Regions from separate parts of the Homo sapiens genome. Here region 2 is linked to region 1. Evidence: fine-mapped expression QTL. Tissue or cell type: whole blood. Region 1 holds a variant in brackets; the other region holds the start of a gene. All regions are shown on one strand. Distances are between the middles of the regions.

Evidence for each region. PIP is the estimated chance that this variant, and not a neighbour inherited with it, causes the effect.
Region 2: it holds the start of TSPAN17, and the variant in region 1 is fine-mapped to the expression of TSPAN17 in whole blood (TOPMed, PIP above 0.99).

Annotation. Positions count from the first base shown.
Region 1 is chr5:176,584,647-176,592,723 of GRCh38, forward strand. It overlaps CDHR2 (cadherin related family member 2), which reads left to right. Exons shown (of 32, transcript NM_017675.6): 19 at 1-369; 20 at 1,308-1,379; 21 at 2,147-2,196; 22 at 4,385-4,536; 23 at 4,684-4,792; 24 at 4,882-4,970; 25 at 5,432-5,500; 26 at 5,607-5,684; 27 at 5,779-5,839; 28 at 5,917-6,041; 29 at 6,564-6,677; 30 at 6,758-6,838; 31 at 8,077. Among named protein-coding and RNA genes, the nearest start is that of GPRIN1, 21 kb to the right of the region's middle. The variant T/G (reference allele first, on the strand shown) is at 3,802.
Region 2 is chr5:176,643,575-176,651,651 of GRCh38, forward strand. It overlaps TSPAN17 (tetraspanin 17), which reads left to right and starts at 3,910. Exons shown (of 9, transcript NM_130465.5): 1 at 3,910-4,128; 2 at 8,042-8,077. The coding sequence starts at 4,042. EIF4E1B (eukaryotic translation initiation factor 4E family member 1B) reads left to right here. Exons shown (of 9, transcript NM_001099408.2): 5 at 65-160; 6 at 802-865; 7 at 1,556-1,669; 8 at 1,803-1,942; 9 at 2,292-3,070. The coding sequence ends at 2,406. RefSeq lists enhancers at 1-511, 512-1,151, 1,733-2,243, 2,514-2,808, 5,170-6,039 and 1 more and a silencer at 3,482-4,141.

The sequences.
Region 1 (8,077 bases):
AGACCATAGTAGACGTCTGCGTGAATGTGAAAGACGTGAACGACAATCCCCCCACCCTGGATGTAGCCTCACTCCGGGGCATCCGTGTGGCTGAGAATGGCTCACAGCACGGCCAGGTGGCTGTGGTGGTTGCCTCGGATGTGGACACCAGTGCCCAGCTGGAGATACAGCTTGTGAACATTCTCTGCACCAAGGCCGGGGTCGATGTGGGCAGCCTATGCTGGGGCTGGTTCTCAGTGGCGGCCAACGGCTCTGTGTACATCAACCAGAGCAAAGCCATCGACTACGAGGCCTGTGACCTGGTCACGCTGGTTGTGCGGGCCTGTGACCTAGCCACGGACCCCGGCTTCCAGGCCTACAGCAACAATGGTAAGGCAGCCTGTCCTTGCAGGGCTTGGCAGGCCATAGCTTAGGGGCCGCGGGAAGGAGCCCTGGGCTGGAACTCACAAGGTCTGGGCTCAGATCTTGGCTCCAGCCCTTTCCAGCTGCAAATACTGGGAAAGTCCCAAACCCTCTCCAAGCTTCAGTTTCCCCATCTGTCCAGTGGAGTTGGGCAGTGGGGTGGGCTGTGAAGATTCAATGAGAATATGGATGTATGGCATTTATTGCAGTGCCTGGCATGCAGTAGCATCAAATTAATGCCATTATTTTACAAGATGCTGTGAAAGAAAGATAACACTGCAGAGCTAGATGTGTGCTTGTATCCCACTTCTGACACCAAATAGCAATAATAATCACATTAACAACTAGCATATATTGAGTCCTTATGACAGCCAAGAACTACACCAGGCACCTTGTAAGAATTTTTCCACTTCCACACAACCCATGGGGTAGGTGTTCCCTATCCAATTTTATAGATGAGGAAACTGAGGCAGAAAGTGGGTATTTAAACAACCAGCTTATATAGTTAGAATGTGTCAGTATAATGTCATAGGTGAGATCTACCTAGGCTGGGCCCAATCCTGGCCCACCACTATTGCTGTGTGACTTTGACAAGCTGCTTATCTGCTCTGAGGTCTGGGATGATACTCCCACCCACACAGGCCAGAGAAGACCGATCAGGCATTCTGGGTCAGGAGCAGGGAAGGGGACTGAGCATGGGGGAACACATGGGAGAGAAGCTGCGGGGCATGGGGTTGAGGCTGCGGGGCACGGGGTTGAGGCTGCGGGGCACAGGGTTGAGGCTGCGGGGCACGGGGTTGAGGCTGCGGGGCATGGGGTTGAGGCTGTGGGGCACAGGGTTGAGGCCCAGGCTCTTTGGGTCAAGCTTTTGCCCAGAGCCAAAGCCAGCTGACCTTGTCTCCTAGGAAGCCTCCTCATTACCATTGAGGACGTGAATGACAATGCACCCTATTTTCTGCCTGAGAATAAGACTTTTGGTAAGCAGCAACCCCATTCACACACCATACCCCTGCTCCATAAGGCCGCCTTTGAGCAACCCCGACAGACCCTCCTTGGACCCCAGGGGGAGCCTTTAGAAAGGGGGGAAGGCCTCTAATCCTGCATCTTCCTAGGGCTGCAATAGGAGAGGACATTGGAGTTTTCTTTTTTCTTTCCTTTTTTTCTTGAGACGGAGTCTTGCTCTGTCGCCCAGGCTGGAGCGCAATGGTACGATCTCAGCTCACTGCAACCTCCGCCTCCCAGGTTCAAGCAATTCTCATGCCTTAGCCTCCAGAGTAGCTGGGGCTACAGGCATGCGCCACCACACCTGGCTAATTTTTGTATTTTTAGTAGAGACAGGGTTTCATTGTGTTGGCCAGACTGGTCTTGAACTCCTGGCCTCAAGTGATCTGCTCGCCTTGGCCTCCCAAAGTGCTGGGATTATAGGCATGAGCCACCATGCCCAGCCAACACTGGAGTTTTCATTCCAGCTCTGTCCGACCTAATGTCTGGCCCTGGGCCAGGACTTCCCTCTCTGGGCCTCCATTTCCGCATGGTCCTGTGGGCCTGTGACCTCACCTGTGACAATGGGAGGTGGATGACTTGCTAACTACTGGCCCAGTGGTGGCTGTAATAGGGGTCTCTTTTGGTAGAGAGGTTGAGGGCAGGTTTAGGGGGATGAGCCCTGAGCTGGGCTCGTGACCAGCCTTGGTCCAGGTGGGCAGTGTCCCGACCCCGCTGACCCCGTTCCCGTTCACACCTGCAGTGATCATCCCTGAACTCGTGCTGCCCAACCGGGAGGTGGCTTCTGTCCGGGTAAGTTCTTGGCTCCAGCCTTTGTTGGTCATATGAGCCCCAGGGGACACAGGGCTGAGGCCTTCAGGCCTTCCATGGTAGAAAGAAAATATATGGGCTCCAACACATGAAAAAGAAAACCCCAGAAGGGAAACCAACACCTGTCTAATCAATGTAATCAAACTTCACTGTGATAAATGTAGCATTCATAAAAATGTCATGACCGTAAATACCACTTGCAGTCCAGATATTTCTTACTATACCAGAATTCTTGAGTAATACAGAGAACTCATAGCTAATTGTAAATTAAGCCAGTGCCTTGTCATTAAATAATTCTCAGAGCCAGCTGGGCACGGTGGCTCAAGCCTGTAATCCCAGCACTTTGGGAGGCCAAGGCAGGTGGATCACCTGAGGTCGGGAGTCTGCGACCAGCCTGACCAACATGCAGAAACCCCATCTCTACTAAAAAATACAAAATTAGCTGGGTGTGGTGGTGCATGCCTGTAATCCCAGCTACTTGGGAGGCTGAGGCAGGAGAGTCACTTGAACTCGAGAGGCGGAGGTTGCGGTGAGTCGAGATCACGCCATTGCACTCCAGCCTGGGCGACAAGAGTGAAACTCTGCCTCAAAAAAAAATAAATAAATAAATAAATTATTGGAGCCAAGTCATAAAAAGGCTTTCAGCTGTTTATGGTGTTGGATGTGGCAAGTTTATTAGGGGTGGTGGCCATGCCGTGTGGGGATGAGGCTTCCCACACCACCGAGGGCTGGGCCTGGCTGGGCTTCTTACTGACCTGGAGAGCTGCCTACCCTCTCTGGGACTCCGTTTCCCTGTTCAACAAGAAGCTAGCAGTTCCCAGAAGGTGGCATGTGGGTGCCATTCCCTATGCTTTGGAAAGGACATGGGTACAAGAGATGGACAGGGCTGGCCTTCCCCACTTAGAGCCGAGTGTAAGGACAGGGTCTCTCGGAGCCTCAGCTTCCTCTTGTAAAATGGGGATAGTAATTCTCCCTCTCTAGGTTGACGTTCATGCTAGAGACAGTGACTGTGTGACTTTCAAGTCTTAAGACAGCTTCCCAATCTTCTGCCAATTTGGTTCTAATGTCAAGAGTTTAGCCACGGCAATTTTCTTTAAATAGATTCCTTTTTAAGACCTAAGCACTGGTGTTGGCCTATCCTTAACAGTAACGTTGGTGAACTCGAAGCTCTGTGTGCTGGTTAAATTTTTCTCTAAAAGGCACTAGAATGAATAAAAATGCTTGTGTCCCCTCCCCAACCAGCTTCATGGTCTACTAGGGGAATTGGTACTCCCCGCACGGAAATGAGGGATCCCAGGGGAGGTGCTTAGGAAATCTGAGCATCGCTGTGTGTGTGCACGCCAGTGTGTGTGTGTCTAAGTGTGAATGTGTGTGCCTGAGGGTGTGTATAAGGGTGAGTGAGTGTATGTGAATGTGTGTGACAGTGTGTGGGTATGTAGGTGATTGTGGGTGTGTATGTGTGTGACTGTGCAAGTGTGTGAATGTGTGTGAATTGAGTGTATTTGTGTGAGTGTGTGTGAATTGAGTGTGTGGTGAGTGCATGAGAGAGTGAGGGTGTGAGTGTGTGTGTCAGGATAAGTGTGTGAG[T/G]GTGAGAGGGTGTGTGAGTGTATGTGAGTGTGAGAGGATAAGTGTGTGAGGGTGTGTATGAGTGTGTGCATGTGTGTGAGTGTGTTAGGGTGAGTGAGTGTATGTGTGAGTGGGACAGTGTGTGAGAGTGTGTGTGAGGGTGTGTATGAGTGTGTGTGCATATGTGTGTAAGTGTGTGTTAGGGTGAGACTGAGTGTGAGTGGGACAGTGTGTGAGAGTGTGTGTGTGTGAGAGGGTGTGTATGTGAGAGAGACTGTGTGTGTGAGTGTGTGTGTGTGAGAGAGAGAGAGAGTATGGCAGTGGAGGGGTGTAGGGGGAGCAGGGCAGGATTTCCACATGTGAGGGACTTAGGGCAGTGATCTGTTTGGAGTTGGGGAACAGGGGCAGGTTCTTGTCCAAATCTGGATTTGCAGAGCAGACACACTGTTTTTTGAAACCATTTGCTTATTCGGGGCAGCGTGGGGATGGCGGATAGAGACGGTGAGGGCCAGCCTCCCAGGCCACCCTTGCCTCTGATCCCTGCTGGGGTGGAGGGATGCCTGGCCTGGCTGGGCCCCCAGATATTGTCCACTCTTGCTCCCAGGCCAGAGACGATGATTCAGGGAACAATGGCGTCATCCTGTTCTCCATCCTCCGAGTAGACTTCATCTCTAAGGACGGGGCCACCATCCCTTTCCAGGGTGTCTTCTCGATCTTCACCTCCTCCGAGGCCGACGTGTTCGCTGGGAGCATTCAGTAACTGCGGGCGGCCCCGGGAGGGAGGTTGCGGGGAGGGGCCCGATAGGAGCTTTCAGGCAGCAAGTCCCCCATCCTGGAGGTTACAAGGGTCCTGAGGATTCAGCTTGGGTTCCAAGACTGACCTGCGCCTCCCGCCTTCCGCAGGCCGGTGACCAGCCTCGACTCCACTCTCCAAGGCACCTACCAAGTGACAGTCCAGGCCAGGGACAGACCTTCCTTGGGTCCTTTCCTGGAAGCCACCACCACCCTGAATGTGAGTGCTGGTCCCACCTCCAGCCCCCAACGCCCTCTGCCAGCCCCCAGGGTCCCTGGTGCCTCATCTCCTGCACACCCCCTTCCCAGCTCTTCACCGTGGACCAGAGTTACCGCTCGCGGCTGCAGTTCTCCACACCGAAGGAGGAGGTGGGCGCCAACAGACAGGCGATTAATGCGTAGGTCTGGGGAGCCCCGGAGGGAGGGGTAGGAAGAACAGGGTGTAGGAGCCTGGTCCCCGACAAAACCTGGATGGGATGTCTCTCAATCCTGTTCCTGACCCACATTTGACCTTGTCCCTGTCTTCAACCCTGTACTTTCACCTGCACGACGTTCTTGCATGTCCCCAGAAGCCCATACCCAGCCAAGGGCAGAGGGAAGCCTTGGAACAAGGCTGCCGTGTACAGTTGTGAAGGCTGTGTGTTGCACAAGGGCACTCTGCTTGCTAAGCTATTCACCCAGCCCCAGAGGAAGGGATTTCCTTTTGTAATTTTCACAGAGATGCTACCTACTCAGCCAACAGAGCTGTCCAGAGGAGGTGCCCTTTCTCACTCATACAATTCTTAATCCCACTGGCACAGCCCTGGCCACAGGCCCAGGCTAAGACCCCAGGCCTCTGTGACATCTGCCTTCTTTGCAGGGCTCTTACCCAGGCAACCAGGACTACAGTATACATTGTGGACATTCAGGACATAGATTCTGCAGCTCGGTGAGTGCCCAGAGGCCTGGGGGTGGGGTTGAGGGGGAGAAGCGGTAGCAGGAGGGGCCTGCTGGGTGATCCAGGCTCCTGACTCTTCAACTCTGTCCCGCTCCAGGGCCCGACCTCACTCCTACCTCGATGCCTACTTTGTCTTCCCCAATGGGTCAGCCCTGACCCTTGATGAGCTGAGTGTGTGAGTGGGGCTGCCCTTGGGGCAGGTGTGAGGGTGAGCAGGAAGCCTGGGGTGTGCCAAGGTCCCTCGGGCCTAAGTGGAGTTCTGTGGCCAGGATGATCCGGAATGATCAGGACTCGCTGACGCAGCTGCTGCAGCTGGGGCTGGTGGTGCTGGTGAGTGCGGGCAGGGCGGGGCAGCAGGTGGGGCTGCTGAAGACGAGTGTGCTTCCCTCACACTCATCTTTCTCCAGGGCTCCCAGGAGAGCCAGGAGTCAGACCTGTCGAAACAGCTCATCAGTGTCATCATAGGATTGGGAGTGGCTTTGCTGCTGGTCCTTGTGATCATGACCATGGCCTTCGTGTGTGTGCGGAAGAGGTGCGGCTCCCATTGCCCCCGTGTCTCCAACCTTCACCCTCTCCCACCACCCAAGACGTCGGGGGGTAGGGGTAGAAGGAGCTGGGGCTTAGGCACAGGTATACATGCATTCACTCCCCAGTGACCCAGTGCGAGATCTTGGGTGAGTCACCTCCCCTCCACGGGCCTCAGTTTCCTTATCTGTGAAAGGGCATGAGACTTGATTCCTCAGTGCACTCAAGGAAGTAACATGCATCTCACACCCAGCTAGACGTCTGGCACACACTATGCGTTTAATAGATGCTGCTGCTTTTTCCAACATGTATAGAGTCAGCAGCCGTATCTGGGCTTGACTTCAAGCCTTGTCACTGGCTATTTGACCTTTGGCAAATCACTTGCCTTCTCTGGCTCTTACTTCTACCCTCTGTAAAATAGAGCTAACACTCACCTCCCGGGATCTTGTGAAGCCACAGGCTCAGGGCCTCCACTGGGGACACAACAGGTGTGCAGCAACAGTGTGACCCCTCTTCCGGTTCCCCACAGCTACAACCGGAAGCTTCAAGCTATGAAGGCTGCCAAGGAGGCCAGGAAGACAGCAGCAGGGGTGATGCCCTCAGCCCCTGCCATCCCAGGGACTAACATGTACAACACTGAGCGGTGAGCAGGGGTCAAAGGGTAGGTAAGAGGCCTGGTGGGGTGGCTGAGGGCCAGGCAACTTGACCAGGCTTTCTCTCCAGAGCCAACCCCATGCTGAACCTCCCCAACAAAGACCTGGGCTTGGAGTACCTCTCTCCCTCCAATGACCTGGACTCTGTCAGGTGAGCAGTGCCCCTCACAGCCAGGCTAGGTGGTGGTGGTGGTACAGGTAGTGACGGTGGTGGTGGTGATGGTGTTGGTGGTGATGATGGTGATGACAATGGTGATGGTGTGGTCATGGTAGTAGTGGTAGTTATGGTGGTGGTGGTGATGGTAGTGAGGTGATGGTGATGGTAGCAATGGTGACAGTGGTGATGATGACAACAATGATGGTGGTGATGATGGTGTTGGTGTTGAGGTGATGGTGATGGTTGTGATGGTGATGGTGGTGATGATGGTGATGATGACGATGGTGGTGGTGGTGGTGGTGTTGGTGTTGAGGTGATGGTGATGGTTGTGATGGTGATGGTGGTGATGATGGTGTTGGTGTTGAGGTGATGGTGATGGTTGTGATGGTGATGGTGGTGATGATGGTGTTGGTGTTGAGGTGATGGTGATGGTTGTGATGGTGATGGTGGTGATGATGGTGATGATGACGGTGGTGGTGGTGGTGGTGTTGGTGTTGAGGTGATGGTGGTGATGGTAGTGGTGGTGGGTGATGGTGGTGGCAATGGTGATGGTGGTGGTCATGGTGGTCATGGTAGTGGTGGCAGTTATCGTGGTGGTGGTGGTGATGGTGGTGGTGATGGTGATGGTAGTGATGGTGATGGTGGTGATGATGGTGATGATGACAATGATGATGGTGGTGGTGGTGTTGGTGTTGAGGTGATGATGGTGCTGATGGTGATGGTGGTGATGATGGTGATGATGACAATGATGATGGTGGTGGTGGTGTTGGTGTTGAGGTGATGATGGTGGTGATGGTGATGGTGGTGATGGTGATGGTGGTGGTGGTGGTGTTGGTGTTGAGGTGATGGTGGTGATGGTGATGGTAGTGATGGTGATGGTGGTGGTGATGGTTATGATGATGATGGTGGTGGTGGTGTTGGTGTTGAGGTGATGGTGATGGTGGTGATGATGGATGATGACGGTGGTGGTGGTGGTGTTGGTGTTGAGGTGATGGTGATGGTGGTGGTGATAGTGATTATGATGATAGTGGTGGTGGTGGTGTTGGTGTTGAGGTGATGGTGATGGTGCTGATGGTAGTGATGATGGTAGTTGTGATGATGGTGGTGGTGGTGATGGTGATGATGGTGGTAGTCGTGGTGATGGTGATGGTGGTGATGGAGGTGGTGGTTCTTGGGCACAGTAAGGGAGGACTGGGCCTGCCAACACCTGAGCTCCATCACCTCTCTTACAGC
Region 2 (8,077 bases), 59 kb after region 1:
AGGTGCCCCGGGGGTGGACTTGGCTCTCTGCTTCCTCCTGGCTGCCTCCCCCTTCCCCTACCAGGTGGGCTCTGTGGTTCTTCAAGAATGACCGCAGCCGGGCCTGGCAGGACAACCTGCACCTGGTCACCAAGGTGGACACTGTGGAGGACTTCTGGGCGTGAGTGTCTGTCCCCAGTGGGGCTAGAGTTGGGGGGCTCTGAGCTCTGGGCTCCCTCTCTCCGGGTTGAGCCAGCCCTCCCTAGGGCCTTTCAGCCTTTGTGAGGGCTGGGGCTTTGTGGGTTCTGCCCAGGGGGTATAGGGCACAACCACCCCCCACCCCACCACCTTCTTTGGGCTCAGGGAGAGAGCCTGGGGAGCAGGAGAAGCAGGAAGCTGACCTTGACTCGGCCACTCCAGGGCTTTGTGACCTGGGCAAGTTCCTTCCCCTCTCTGAACCTGTCTCAGCTGCAAAGGGAGGACTCGGCTGCCTCAGTGTCCGGGTGCTCACGGGAGTGGCTCTGAAAAGGGCTACACAAGCCCTAGGGAGGGTGAGAAGGCCTCGGCTGTAGCTGGAGGGGGGAGCACCAGGGGGTCTAAAACCCTCCCCAGGGGTTGGCTCAGCCTTCACTGGGAAGGCTCTGTGGAAAAGGTGGGTCTTGAGAGTTTGGATAAACGGGAGTGGAATCCCAGGTGGCAGGCCAGTGTAAGCAAAGGCTTGGAGGCCATGGGGTCGGATGAGGAGTTGGGAGGGCTGAACCCAGTTGGAACCAGGCCCTAAAAAGCCTTGACTTTTGGCATGGGGTCGGGGGCTCTGTCCAGGCTATACAGTCACATCCAGCTGGCCAGCAAGCTCTCCTCTGGCTGTGACTACGCCCTCTTCAAGGTAAGCTCTGCTCTCCTCTTTCCCTCCCGCAAAGGGACAAGGGGTTGATCCCTCCCGGACTCCACTGCGTTAATCCCTCAGAGGGGTGGGGGTGGGGAGCTACGGGCCACCTCTCAGCAGAGTTGTGGTTTCTGACTGGAGGAAATGCTCTACAGGAGCCCGGACAGAGTAGGTCAGGCCCAAGCCGCACCTTGGAGGACCTTAAGAGGCGGGAAGAGGGAGAGGGAGAGATTTCTGACCTGGCTCCTTAACTAGGGAAGGGCATCAGAATTGCTTGAGGACACTCATTGATGCCACACCCATCCCTGGAGGGCTGACATTGTGTTTAGAGATCTCCCCAGTGACTTCTGCCCTGCCTGGGAACCATGCAGCCAAGCCTGGGATGTCCCCCTTGCCTGCATTGGGGTCTGCCCCTGAGGCTTCCTTAATCCACCCCGATTTGAATGCTTGTCTTAAGGAACTCAGTAAAAGAGACATGCACATATACAAGGCTATACAAGGTGACCAGTGCTGTCTGTCGGGGGGAGCTGAGTGGCTGGGGGTGGAACCTGCTTGCACTGAGGGAAGGGAGGATAAGAGAATCTGGCCTACTTAGGGCCTCAGCAGAGAGCGGATAAGGCCGGGATGGTGGGTGGGTCCCCATTTCCCTTTGAACACAGGGAGGCAGTTGACTTGCCATCTGCCTTGCAGGATGGCATCCAGCCCATGTGGGAGGACAGCAGGAATAAACGGGGTGGCCGCTGGCTGGTCAGCCTGGCCAAGCAGCAGCGCCACATTGAGCTGGACCGGCTGTGGCTGGAGACGGTGAGTTGGAGGAGGAGGGTCCTCAGGGGAAGAGACGGGCTGTGTGGGTCTCATGGTGGCAGTGGTCTCAAGGATGGCAGGCCAGTCCCTATGTCCCAGCCGGTGATCTCACAACCCCCTACTTCGGGTCCAGCTGCTGTGTCTGATCGGGGAGAGCTTTGAGGAACACAGCAGAGAGGTATGTGGGGCCGTCGTCAACATCCGCACCAAGGGGGACAAGATCGCTGTGTGGACGAGGGAGGCGGAAAACCAGGCGGGCGTGCTGCACGTTGGGTGAGGAGGGTCTCTGGCACAGGGTGGGGACTTGGGTCTCTGCTAGAGGGAAGGTGGGTGGAGGGGGCTTGGCCTGCATGGGAGACCTCTGAAAGTCTCCATAGCCTCCCTCCCTTCTGCCTTGCCCACCTGTATGGAAGGTCTGGCGTTCAGATTTCTAACTTTCTCTTACGGCAGTGCAGCTCTCCTTTTGCATTAAGGGGGTCATATTTTGGGTTTCCACATGGGTAAGACACAACAGGTGTGGCTGTGGCCAGAATGAGGGTAGGAGTCTGGTGGCCTAAGTTATCTCTAGGACCCTCTGATGACTACCTGTGTCTCTTTTCCTCTGTGTCCCCCGCACCTGCAGGCGTGTATACAAAGAGCGCCTGGGCCTCTCCCCAAAGACCATCATTGGGTACCAGGCCCATGCAGACACAGCCACCAAGAGCAACTCCCTAGCCAAGAACAAGTTTGTGGTGTGAGGGGGGCCTTGGCACCCCTCCTATGTAATGGGACAGCCGCCACTGAGCCTCATTACTTTGGGGGATGGGGCGGGACTGGGGATCAGACAGCCTAGTTCTTACCTGTCCTCAAGTGAACAGGAATGCAAACACTCTTTAACATGAGTTGGGGCCTGAGCCTTAGGGGCTAGATGGGGGTAGTGGTGGCAGTCTGAGGACCTAGCTTGTCCTGGGGCCACAGGACAGCAGCAGGGTGGAAAAAACTCCTGAGGGTGGGGTGAGTCATGGCGGGGAAGGAGGGCTCTATGGTAGGCGGAGAAACCCATAGTCCAGCGTTTACTGTTTCCACCCAGGAAGGAGGTGAGGTGGCCTGAGAGACAGACTCTTCCATGGGTGGTGGGCTCAAGGGCACAGACATTCTGGAGGGTGAACGCCATCATTTGTACAGAGGGATACGTGGGTTGCTGAGGACTGAGAGAGCCTTGCAAGGCCGCTCCCCTTCTCCCCAGCTGTGACCAGGGCTGTCTGGGCCTTGCCTGCCTCAGGGCCAGACTGAAGTGGAGGTGGAGGGATGCTGGGCTAGGCCTCACCAAGGTTCTGGTAGAAGTGGTGGAAGTGGATAAACTTGATAATAAAAGCTTAAGCATCTTTCTGTTCCTGTTTTAAATAAATACTTCTGAACAAAGTTGGAATTATTTTTAAGAGGGCTTCAAACTGGAGTAAGATTCAGGTTCCCCCAAACTTTGATCTGCCTCTGTCCTGTCTTACAGGGGCTCATGTGAGATCACTGGGTACCAAGGAGCCTGACCGGGACCCTGGCCAGTATGGAGGACAGGGGGTGTGGCTGGGGAAACTCAGCCACCAAGGGGGCTTGAGCCAGGTTCCGGGGGGCATATGCCCCTGGCAGGGCGCAGCCGGCGTGGCACCAAGGCCCAGGCCCTCGTTTGGCCTGAGTTTGAGTCAGGATAAGTAGAGCTGGATTTCCGCTGGGTGAAGGTGAGCCTGATGCGACTCCACAATGACAAAACGTCCTGCACGTGTTAAAAACTCAATCCGGACCAGCTTCCCCATTCGCCTGCCAGAGCAGCAGTTAACCTTCCCCTGGGATGGGCTCCAACAGCAGGCTGGGGATTGGGATGGCGCTGGTACCCAGCAGGGGAAGCAAGGCTTCTACACCCCGGCGGCCTCCGGCGCCATCAGCCGGCGTCCCGGGCGGGTCTGCAGGACGCTGGGAAACGCGGCGGCGGCCTGCGCGGGGGCGGGGCCTGGCCGAAGGCGGGGCTGCGAGGAGGTCCGAATCAGGCTGTGGGGGCGGAGCTCGGGAAGCGGAGCCAGGTCCAGAGGCGGGGCTCAGGCGGGACTGAGTTGATCTATGGGGGCGGAGCCAGGTCAGGAGGCGGGACTCCAAAGGGACTGAGGGCTGTGGGGGCGGGGCCCGGTCCAGAGGCGGGGACAGCAGGGCTCCGGGCAAGGAGGTCTGGATGCTGAGGGCGGTCCCTGAGGGGCGGGCGGGGCCCGACCGGCGCTCTGTGTGGCCGAGGCCATGAAGCCGCAGCCGCCCGGCTAGGCCCCGGGCGGCTCTAGCCCAGGGCGGCCCGCGGGGCGCTGGGCCTGGCTCCCGGCTCCGGTTTCCGGGCCGGCGGGTGGCCGCTCACCATGCCCGGCAAGCACCAGCATTTCCAGGAACCTGAGGTCGGCTGCTGCGGGAAATACTTCCTGTTTGGCTTCAACATTGTCTTCTGGGTGAGCGCGGGGTCTGCGCCTTGCCCTGTGCTGGGGGGTGGTGGGAGAGGGAGATTCAGTCTTTTGCTGGGGGAGACCACTCCCTGCCCCAAGAGTTTGGAGCTCGGGACCATCCCCCCACTTCTGCCACACCCACGCCCACTTCCAGGACCACCCGAGGTAGCTACAGAGGCCCGGATTGCTGGGGGCGGGTCCTAGCGACAGCGTGGGGTCGGGGTTGGGGTAGGGAGTCTCCCTAAATAATCCCGAGGCCTGGTGGAGAAAGGGAAGGTGTTTCCTTGAAGACCCCAGGGGCGTGCTAGGTGCAGGTTGCCCCCTCTCGCCCAGCCCTCCTTCCTACCCTGGGATGTGGGATGCGTGCCAAGCCCCACCCCTGGTTTAGCCGGTAAGGAGATTCTGGCGTGAAGGGAGCCGCCAGGCCCCTTCCCCGGCCTCCTTTCCCTTCCAGTAGTACCTGGGTCAGGTGCCTCACCTTAGGCTCCTGCAGAGTGGGGTGGGTCACAGTCCTCTGCCCACCCCAGTCCCGCACAAGGAGGCTGACCTGCCAGGAGGGGCAGGGAGGGACAATGGCGAGTCCTTGGCGGCTGGGAGAGGATCTCCCCGGTTGAGAGCCTGGGAGCTGGCCTTGGGGAACAGAATTCAACATTCCACAGCTGACAAGCTGAGGCTCCTGGGCGGGTCTGCCCCTACCGGGGAAGGGAGCTACTAGTGCCCCTCCCAGGGTGGCATCTGTCCCCCTGGGCCCTGCCAGGTCATTTTTCCCATCTCTCCAAAGCCGTGGCCCTCTGCAGTCTCTGCTCCTGAGGCCTTGGGTCAAGATGCCAGGCCTTTTCCCTTGTGTTCAGCAAGACTCAGTGGCACTGCCCCCCACCCACGTGTCACCGAGCTCACTGGTGTGGTGGGTGTCCTTGCACTGCAGCGCTAGGCTCTTGAGGGTGTGGGCAGTGTGTGGGAGCACTGGCAAAGAAGTCAGAAGGCCTGGCTGTAGCAGGCCTGGCTGGGACACCTTGGGCAAGTCATCTCTCCTCTCCGGGCCTCAGCTTGCCTGCCTGGGAGACGACGATAAAGAATCTGCCTGTGAGGGCTGTTAGGCAGATACAATGAGTTCAATTTGTTGTATTCTCACAACTGCCTTATTATCTGCATTTTACAGATGGGGAAACTGAAGGAATAGACACAGAGAAATTAAGTCACTTACCTAGGGTCACACAGCCAGAAAGTACAGAGCCAAGGTGACGGCTTAGTGGGCAGAGGGTGGAGGTGAGGCAGAGCTGTGAGCAGAAGTAACCTCAAATACCGAGGGGGAGCAGGCGTGAGAGACCCGGGTTTGTTGCTGGGGCGGAGCGTGGGGTGTTATGTTAAGGTGGCATGGAGAAGCGAGGGCTTCCAGTGATGGGTCTGATCTGGCTTCTGTTCTGGAGACCGCTTGCCTGGCTGCTGTGTGGAGGGTGGATGAGGGGCAGGGCCTGGAGGTTTGGAATGGGGGCAGGGCTGGGGCAAAGCTGGGATGGTGAGGTGGGAAAGGTGAGGGAGGTTGCTGGGAAAGTCAAGAGGCTGAATTGACTGGGCTGGGTCACTTGGGGGCTGGAGGGAGGATTTCAGATTTGGGTTAAGGTGGCCTAAGGGAGGCTGCTTGTGGAACAGGCACAGAGGTTTTCATGTTTAATGTCAGGCAGACCCTGGTGTTGTTCTGTTTGGAAACTGCTTGTGGTTTCCTTTTTTCTTTTTTCTTTTTTTTTTTTGAGACAGAGTTTTGCTCTTGTTGCCCAGGCTGGAGTGCAATGGCACGATCTCGGTTCACTGCAACCTCCGTCTCCCAGGTTCAAGCGATTCTCCTGCCTCAGCCTCCCAAGTAGCTGGGACTATAGGTGTGTGCCACCACGCCTGGCTAATTTTGTATTTTTACTAGAGATGGGGTTTCTTCATGTTGGTCAGGCTGGTCTCGAACTCCTGACCTCAGGTGATCCACCTGCCTTGGCCTCCCAAAGTGCTGGGATTACAGGCGTGAGCCACCACGCCCGGCCATCCTGCTCGTGGTTTCTTACTGCTCCTAGAGTACTGTCGGCCTCCAGGGCCCCGCGGGGCCGGGCTGTCCGCCCTTCAGTTTGTTCCTTGAACTAGACGTGGTCTTGTGTCAGGGCCTCTGCCTGTGCCCTACCCTCCTCCTGGAACAGGCTTTTCCCTCTTGCTCTTTTCATCATTCAAACCTCAGCTGAAATGCCCCCACCCTCCCTTCTGCCCTCTCTAAAGCTGGCGTCCAACCCCAGCATCCCCCATCTCGTCGCCCCGCTCGATATTTGTTAAGGGGTCTGTTTGCATCTGAGGTTTCCTTGTCTGCTCACTGACTGTCCATCTCCCCTGCTGGAGTGTAAGCTCCGTGAGGGTCGAGTCCGTCCTATTCACCAGCGAATCCCCGGCATGGCGGCGATCAGTGCCGGTGGGTCGTGGAGGTGTTTGCTGCAGGCGGGTGGACGTAGGGGTGTGGGACCAGCATGAGGTCTGGGTGGGGATCGGGAGATGCCAGCGTCATGATGGGATGGAAGACGAGCGTGAGGAGGAAGAACGGCAGAAGGCTGAGGCTGGAGGCCGTGGGACCAGCCACAGGTGGTCCCTCCAGGAACACAGCCCTCCAGGAACTCCTGCTGGAGGCTGAGAGCTCACTTCCCAGCTGTTTTCCCAAAGTGCTTTAATTGTATTTCCTTGGCTCTGATTGGCTGCCTCTGGACCAATCCCCGGGGCAGGTGAAGGCGGAGCATCCTGGGAAGGAGCTCGGGGAGGAATGGGGTTGAGTTAACTGAGGTGGGGTTCAGGAAGGAGAAAGTGGCACTCAGTCCCCTGTCTGAAGGCCAAGGGCAGGCCAAGTGGGAGGAGGCAGGAGAAGTGATGTTTGGTTTCACATCAGCAGACCCAGCAGGCAGGAGGGAAGGGAAGATGTTTCCAGAGAAAGAATAGAGCAGTGTGGGGAGCCCACGGTCAGGGAAGGGAAGGTGATAAAGGCCTTGGCCGTGGCTATGTGCTGAGGGGAAGGAGCCTGCAGATAAAGCAGGTGGGTGGGGAGGTCGCAGGAGGTGGGGTCATGGCCCTGGGCTTGGGTACGACAGCCTTTCCCCCTCTGAGACTGCACGCCCAGGGACCTGCCCAGGGTCAGGTGTGAGAGTGACCAGCCTGGACATCCAGGGCTCTTCCCAGTAGGGAATTGAGGCAGGAAGGTGGGAAAGCTGAGGATGGAGGAGAGGCACTTGGACTGCCCCGGTGGGGAGTCTAGCTGGTGTTCTGAAGGCCCAGGCAGAGCTGTGGCCATGGGGCAAAGCCACTGGCACAGGCCAGATCCTAGGTGGATCCTGCTAGGGATGATTGAGATTCCTGTCATTCAGGGGTGTCTGGTCGTGAGCCGTGGAAGCTGACTCTGGCAGGCGGAGGTTAAAGGGGTAGGATGGGGCTGGGCTGGGGAGGAGTGTTGAGGGCGGGGCCGCAGTCACACGGCTTTAGGGTAGCAGGAGAGCTGGACTTGGCAGGGTGCAGAAAGGAGGCTAGGAGCCTGGAACCCCAGCACCAGCTTCGGTCAGGTGTAGAGGCTCAGTATACTGGCGCCGTCGCTACCCCCGCTGACACAGCTGCTATTGCTCCTTGGCAGGAGTGTCTTGGCCACCGTCTGCTCCAATTTGGAGTTCCAGGAAGGGGCCCCTGATGTCCATCCCAAGGCTAGCAGAGGGTTCAGTCCTCCAGGCTGTGTCCTGTGGGGAAGAAGCACTGGGATGTGTTCTTGGGAAGATGGAAAGGACCCCGGATCCCGTTCACAGCCCTTGTGCCTCTTCCTCTCTCCGCTGGAAAGGCCCTGGCTACCGGGGAAGGATGAGGGGGGAGGGTCCTGGGGCTGCTCCCAGCCCTGAGCTCTTTGTTGCTGCCCTTGCAGGTGCTGGGAGCCCTGTTCCTGGCTATCGGCCTCTGG